Homo sapiens: one gene and its partner. The protein of the gene in region 2 purifies or fractionates together with the protein of the main gene of each other region. This does not show direct contact. Each region holds a gene or a part of one and is shown on either strand. Other genes may lie near its edges.

Region 1 (3,519 bases), on a different chromosome or scaffold from region 2:
AAAAAAACCTGGACGCTGTGGCTAGCCAAGGTGATATACAACACACCCTCTCCTGCTGTGTCCTCAGCCTACGGGCCTACTGACCTGCACCTCCCTGAGTTCTTGTGATTACCCTGGTCCTCAGCGCTGTGCTGAGTCATCCTTGGTTAAGACCCATGATTTGTGTGTCAGGGACAAAACCTAGAATTTTTAAAAACAGAACTGCAGGTGTCCTGCCTTTTGGTGGATGTGGCAGGTGCTCACTAGGATAGCAGCATGTGGACGTAAGGATCTGGTTTGCTTACGGGGCCCCCTTGGAGGTGTGCAGCTTTGCTACGATGCCCAGGCTGCCTGAGTGTAAAAGCCATTGGTTTTGAGTCACTGACATTTCATGCTTTCCTGATCCCGATAGTGTGTTGTTTCTTCCCGCAGATACTTTTCTGTCCAGTCTGTCTTCTGCTGACAGGGCACCTGTAGTCAGTCTTCCTCTTGTCATGGTATTTGCTCTTGATCATCCTGGTGATGTTGTACTGCGACTACCATGCCATACTGCACTGTGGTAACTGTCTGCTGAAATCACAGCCAGGACACATGGGGAATCTCCTTGTGTCTGGCAGCCTGAGCCATACCTCTGGCAGGAGCGGGTTCTCCCTTTGCAGCAGGTTGCATTGCTGCACTGAGGAAATGCTTTCATGAACAAAGATCCCAAAGGCCATATTAGCACTGAGCCAAATCAGGTCTGTTTCACAATCATGCATGAGGTTATGGGATGACCTCAGCTGCACTTACAGAAAGTATGTAATTCTTCACGAAAAATGCTGAGAGTTACATAACACACACTCCAGCTCCCTGAGTTTCTGGATTTAATAGAAATCAAATCATGTCCTATGGGTGTCAAGAGGAGTAAGAAGAACAGGCAGATGGCTGAGCCTGCAATGACCCCACACTGACCCTGCTGGGGACATGTGAGGGCTTGAGGCAAGGTGACGAGGAGGCTCAGAAAGAGGGCCTGGCAGCTATCCACATTGGGGCAAGGGCAAACTTGTGACAACAAGGTTTGTGTAGACTGGAAAACAAAGGGACTGACAGTTCGGACTCAGCTGCATGCAGACTTATGAGCAAATCAGGGACTAACCAGCCTCTCCTGTCCTGGCATCTCATGAAGGGACCAATCAGTGTGACCATCTGTAGCAGTTTAAAATATACTCTATTGCTTTTACTCTAATGATTTCATTCCTTTTTGGGAAATTTCCAGCATTATGAGGTGAGTACTGCTAGAGTGGATTTCTGTCCACAATCTATGAATGTGGGAATCACCCAAAGTTTTCGGTAATCTCATTCCACTACTCAGCCCAAATGCCTGGGCGAGTGTCCTAGCCAAGGAGGGTGCAAATACCAGAGGCACTGGTCATCACAATGCTGATCTCCCCATGCCGATCTCACCTTAGCCCAGGCCATCCCAGACACCCAGTGTTGTTACTGCCTGCGGGGGCTGCAGGTTCCCCAGAGCTAAGGCCTCTTTGCATCTAGTTGAAGTTTCTGTGGCACTGTCCTGGCCCATGAGCTTGAAGCCATGGAATGACCTCTGCGTCCCTGTGGGTCATACTCGTTCTTTACAGTGAGCATTGATCGATGCGGGAATCACTTCCCCAGCCCAGGCTCCATTACCTATGATGACAGTTTCCCTTCCTCTAACACTGTAAGCATGACAGTAGTAGATTTACAGTATTTAAAATTATAGAGCCTGGTAAAGTAATAATTGGTTCCACTTCTTTTTTTTTTTTTTTTCCTTTGAGAAGGAGTCTCCCTCTGTCACCCAGGCTGGAGTGCAGTGGCGTGATCTCAGCTCACTGCAACCTCCGCCTCCCAGGTTCAAGCAATTCTCCTGCCTCAGCCTCCTGAGTAGCTGAGACTACAGGCGTGTGCCACCATGCCCGGCTAATTTTTTTTTTGTATTTTTAGTAGAGATGGGGTTTCACTGTGTTAGCCAGGATGGTCTCGAACTCCTGACCTCAGGTGATCCACCCGCCTCAGCCTCCCAAAGTGCTGGGATTACAGGCGTGAGCCACCGCACCTGGCCAATTGGTTCCACTTCTAACATAGACCTGACTTCTTTCCAGGGCACAACTAGGAGGCCGGCCCCTCCCTGCTCTGTGTCCCCAATTCCCCCTACATCTTTGCTCTTACCTTTCATCTCCAGAAAACATTCTTCCCTTCCCACCTCCCTAAATCCTGCCACTTCTCAAATAAAATGACAACTACCTGCTCTGCTACTAAGGGGTGTGCCTTCTATCCTTGGTCCAACTCTAGCCCACACCCCTGCACACCTCTTCCAAAGCTCTTCACGGCTAACTCCAGTTTCCTATCATGCCGTGTATGTGCTATTTGCTTCTTTACACACGACCTTTTTTCTAAAAAGAACAGGAGGCTCTGGAGAGAAAAGTGGTGATGCCTTCTTTATATGTTTCCCAGAACCCATACATAAGACATTACAAATATTTGATTTTTTTTCTGATTATTTGGTTTTTAGGTCATCATTAATAGGAAATATAAAATTTGTCAGACAAGATTCTATCTTGAAGTTAAATAAGGGCAAATTGTTACAATCTGTTGAGACTATTTCTACACAAGCAGGCAGGCGAGTCAACCCCCAACACTCAGTCACATGACCAGAAATGGTGAAGCAGGACCCCACCTGCCTGCAGTCTGTGCCCTCCTCCGTCTCCTACCAGCCCGTGAACTCCCGCCTCTAATCACAGCAAGCATGACTCTCCTGACAAGTCTCAGTTCTACAATTTCTCCTTCAGGCTCACCTACACTTTTTCCTTACAGAGACTCTCAGACTCCCCTCCTTTTCAGTGAAAACATCTCTGTCCATTCAGAATAACTGCAACCTGGCTCCTTAACAGATTTGGTGAAGACAAAAGCAAACTTCCCACATAGTTCTGACAATTACAACTTCAGGAAAAGGAACACTGTAAGCAGGACTGTTTTACTATTGCTATTCTTTAAAAGTTGATTTTAAATATATATATATATATATATATATATACACACACACACACATACATACATATACATATATTTTTTATTTATTTATTTTTTTCTTTGAGACAGAGTTTCGCTCTTGTTGGCCCAGGCTGGAGTGCAATGGCGTAATCTCGGCTCACTGCAACCTCCACCTCCCGGGTTCAAGCGATTCTCCTGCCTCAGCCTCCTGAGTAGCTGGGATTACAGGCGCGCGCCACCACGCCCAGCTAATTTTGTATTTTTAGTAGAGATGGAGTTTCTCCATGTTGGTCAGGCTGGTCTCCAACTCCCGAACTCAGGTGATCTGCCCACCTCGGCCTCCCAAAGTGCTGGGATTACAGGCGTGAGACACTGCGCCCGGCCGACTTTAAATATTTTTTTAAAGTCTAGATGCACCCAGGGCTCTGGGTTATGTTGGTGAGCGGAACTCCATGCTGGAACATGGGGCCTTGACGATCTGCCTTGCACGCCTCTCTCTGGGCCTTACCTTTTTCCCTTCAGTGTCGCCAC
Region 2 (4,257 bases):
AACCTCTGCCTCCCAGGCTCAAGAGATTCTCCTGCCTAAGCTTCCCGAGTAGCTGAGATTACAGGCATGTGCCATCATGCCTGGCTAATTGCACTCCAGCCTGGGCAAAAAGAATAAAACTCTGTCTCAAAATAAGAATAATATTAATAATAATAATAAATAACTTCATTAACACAGGTCTTAAAGACCTCATTGAGATCTTTTCCTTTGCTTCCTAAAATATAACTTTTTTTTTTTTGAGACGGAGTTTTGCTCTTGTTGTCCAGTCTGGAGTGCAATGGCACAATCTTGGCTCACCGCAATCTCTTGAACCATCTCCTTGGTTCAAGTGATTCTCCTGCCTCAGCTTCCTGAGTAGCTGGGATTATAGGCATGCACCACCATGCCTGGCTAATTTTGTATATTTAGTAGAGACAGGGTTTCACCATGTTAACCAGGATGGTCTCGATCTCCTGACCTCATGATCCACCCGCCTCAGCCTCCCGAAGTGCTGGGATTACAGGCATGAGCCACCACGCCTGGCCCTAAAATATAACTTTCATATAAACACTCTATTATAGTCTCTAAATTTATAGCCTTGATTAAATATACAGAAACTAAGTAGTAGTCATCCAGATAAAAAGGGAGTGATAGTAAGTGATGGACTCAGCCTTGGCGAAGTTGTTCCCAGGATTCCTGTAGGACTTGGGTGCAGAAGGAAGATCTTTTTAAACTATTTATTTATTTATTTATTTATTTATTTATTTATTTATTTATTTTGAGACAAGAGTCTTGTTCAGTTGCCCAGGCTGGAGTGCAGTGGCGCAATCTCGGTCACTGCAAACTCTGCCTCCCGGGTTCAAGTGATTCTCCTGCCTCAGCCTCCCGAGTAGCTGGGATTGCAGGCACCTGCCACCATGCCCGGCTAATTTTTGTGTTTTTAGTAGAAATGGGGTTTTACCATGTTGGCCAAGCTGGTCTCAAACTCCTGACTTTGTGATCTGCCCGCCTCAGCCTCCCAAAGTGCTGGGATTACAGGCATGAGCCACTGCATCTGGCTTAGGAAGATCTTGAGGCAGTGCCTGCCCAACCGTCCTTGAGTGAGGTGGTGCTACCCTTCTTTTTTTTTTTTTTTTTTTTTTCGAGATGGAGTCTTGTTCTGCCACTCAGACTGGAGTGCAGTGGTCCGATCTTGGCTCACTGCAACCTCCACCTCCTGGGTTCAAGTGATTCTCCTGCCTCAGCCTCCCAAGTAGCTGGGATTACAGGCACCTGCCACAATGCCCAGCTCATTTTTATAATTTTAGTACAGATGGGTTTTGCCATGTTGGCCAGCTGGTTTTAATCTCCTGAGCTCAGGTGATCTGCCTGCCTCAGCCTCCCAAAGCGCTGGAATTACAGATATGAGCCACCACGCCTGGCCTGCCCTTTCTTCTTCTTCTTTTTTTTTATGGAGTCTCATTCTGTCACCCAGGTTGGAGTGCAGTGGCACGATCTCAGCCCACTGCAACCTCCGCCTCCCGGGTTCAAGCAATTCTCCCTGCCTCAGCCTCCCGAGTAGCTGGGACTACAAGCGTCTGCCACCATGCCCGACTAATTTTTGTATTTTTAGTAGAGATGGGGTTTCACCATATTGGCCAGGCCGGTCTTGAACTCCTGACTTCGTGATCTGCCCTCCTTGGCCTCCCAAAGTGCTGGAATTACAGGCGTGAGCCATGGCACCTGGCCTTGTTCTTTCTTCTTTAAGCTCCTCCTCCTTACATCTCTAGTGCCCAGGGTAGAGTCTGAGCAGTGTCTGATGGAGGTTCTAGGCTTCAGGTCCACTTAGAGTCCTCTGCCCTTACAGAAGGAAGGTAGGCTTACCTGCCTCTTGGTCATTAGACGTTATTGAACACCTGCCTAGGGGTGGGCAATGTGCTGGGTCCTGGAGTTGTGGTGAGAATGTCTTGTATAAACCCAAGTCTTTGAAGAGTTGAATAGGCTTCCTTAGTCCATATTTGTGCATGTCCTGGTTTTTCCTGTGCCAGATTTGAGCTTTCTGCTTTCTGGAGCTGCCAGGCAGGGGTCTGTAGGTTGTGAAACATGGAACTGGGTTGGCCATTCTAGTGGAAGGAAGACTAGACAAGTTGTTCAGGAGGAATGGGCTTGACCTCTCAGGACCTGGTCATCCTTTTAGCTCATGTAGGGAGCTGTGGGAATGGCTTTGAATGGACTTTGTCATATGCTACTTTTGCAGATCCTCCTCAGATCTCTGTCCTTTTCCCATTTACTGCCTCTGTACTTTGTTCTTGGAGTCCACCTGCAGCCTGCAGCAGTTTAGGCTTTTGCAGGAATTAGGAGGAATGCTGACAGGTACAGTTGTGCCACTTTGATTCTGAAAAGAAAGTTTGGATACCCAGGGTCTGCAGTGAGGCAGGTTCTTCAGCCTGGGTCTGTGGAGCCCTGCCAGTGTGCAGCCTCACCCTGATTCTCCTGCTACTCTCTATAAGGAGAAACTTTAAAATTTTTTTGTATTTGTTTTAAAAAAATGGTTTTGAGATGGGGTCTTGCTATTTTACCCAGGCTGGTCTTGAACTCCTGGGCTCAAGTGATCCTCCCGTCTCAGCCTCCTGCGTACCTGAGATTATAGGCCCTGATACAGGCACTTCATTTGTTACTGAGAAGCTTATGACAAAGTAACAAAGTGATATTTATCTCTTTCCTTCATTCTCCAGAGGCAACTACTTTCAATTTTTTCAGTTGTTTATGCTGTTTCCACCTATCTACATAATATACATTTACTATTATATTTTATTTATTTATTTTTATTATTATTATTTTTTGTTTGAGACGGAGTTTTACTCTTGTTGCCCAGGCTGGAGTGCAATGGCGCGATCTCGGCTCACTGCAACCTCCGCCTCCCGGTTCAAGCGATCCTCCTGCCTCAGCCTCCTGAGTAGCTGGGATTACAGGCATGTGCCACCACGCCTGGCTAATTTTGTATTTTTAGTAGAAACAGGGTTTCTCCATGTTGGTCAGGCTGGTCTCGAACTCCCGACCTCAGGTGATCCGCCCGCCTTGGCCTCTGAAAGTGCTGGGATTACAGGCATGAGCCACCGCACCCGGCCATTACTATTATATTTTATACATTTTTATATTTTTTAGCTACCTATTTGTGGTACATTATTTTATATTTTAGCTCTTAGTCTCCCTATCCCCTCCTTCTGCCCTGCCCATCCATATGATTTTATCACCCTTTGTGGTTTAATCCAATTCACCATTTTCATGATTACAACTTTATATATATTTTTTCTCTTAAGTAAGTATGAAGTATGATGTGCATTCCATTCCTTGTGTAACTTCTTGTTTCCCTTGGGATTGGGTTAATAATTGTGTTAAATCTTTTGTTTTGTTTGTCTTTGAATCACTGTCTCTGTCATTCTGTACCCTAAATGCTCTGTAGTGTACCTTTCTGTTTGGTTTGCTACACACTGCCTAAGGAGTTATTTTCTGTTGTTCTAGTGTGTATTGTTTTGTTCTGTTTTTGTTTTAGTTTAGTTTTGTTTTTTTGAGATGGAATTTTGCTGTGTTGCCAGGCTGGAGTACAGTGGCACAATCTCGGCTCACTGCAACCTTTGCCTCCCAGGTTCAAGCGATTCTCATGCCTCAGCTCCTGAGTAGCTGGGATTACAGGCATGCACCACCACACCCAGCTAATTTTTGTATTTTTAGTAGAGGCGGGGTTTCACCATGTTGGCCATGATGGTCTTGATCTCCTACCTTGTGATCCGCCTGCCTTGGCCTCCCAAAGTGCTGGAATTACAGGCATGAGCTACTGCACCCAGCCTTGTTCTGTTTTTCTTGGAAACATCGCTTTTGGAGTCCTCTACTGCCCTGTGGACTGACTGCTTCCCAGGTCCACTGCACCCTGTGCCATCCTAGAAACGCATTTCATCTCTCTTGGACTGGCCCCCTGGTCTCCCAGGTCCTGAATCTTCCTCGTTTACCACCTTGTTTGGCAGGGTATTTATGTATGTATTTGTCTGTCTGTCTAATTATTTATTGGTTACCACATAATTCACTTTCTTTTTTTTTTTCTAGAGATGGGGTCTCACTCTGTCACCCAGGGTAGAGTACAGTGGCAAGGTCATAGCTCACTGCAGCCTTGAACTCCTTGGCTCAAGTTATTCTCCCAACTCAGCCTCCTGACTGCCTAGGACTACAGGCACACACCACCACGTCTGGCTAACTTTTATTTTTTATTTGTTTTTGTAGAGACAGGGTCTTGCTATGCTGCCC

Evidence for each region.
Region 1: the proteins of SLC25A20 (region 2) and OGDH fractionate together in Homo sapiens (co-fractionation; one large-scale study listed by BioGRID). This does not show direct contact.

Annotation. Positions count from the first base shown.
Region 1 is NC_000007.14:44,676,127-44,679,645, reverse strand, and holds part of OGDH (2-oxoglutarate dehydrogenase complex component E1 isoform 1 precursor), read right to left. Parts: coding exon 3,497-3,519; coding exon of another isoform or gene 3,419-3,496; exon of another isoform or gene 3,064-3,418; intron 1-3,063. UniProt on the Homo sapiens protein: 2-oxoglutarate dehydrogenase (E1o) component of the 2-oxoglutarate dehydrogenase complex (OGDHC). Participates in the first step, rate limiting for the overall conversion of 2-oxoglutarate to succinyl-CoA and CO(2) catalyzed by the whole OGDHC.
Region 2 is NC_000003.12:48,885,072-48,889,328, reverse strand, and holds part of SLC25A20 (mitochondrial carnitine/acylcarnitine carrier protein), read left to right. Parts: intron 1-4,257. UniProt on the Homo sapiens protein: Mediates the electroneutral exchange of acylcarnitines (O-acyl-(R)-carnitine or L-acylcarnitine) of different acyl chain lengths (ranging from O-acetyl-(R)-carnitine to long-chain O-acyl-(R)-carnitines) with free carnitine ((R)-carnitine or L-carnitine) across the mitochondrial inner membrane, via a ping-pong mechanism.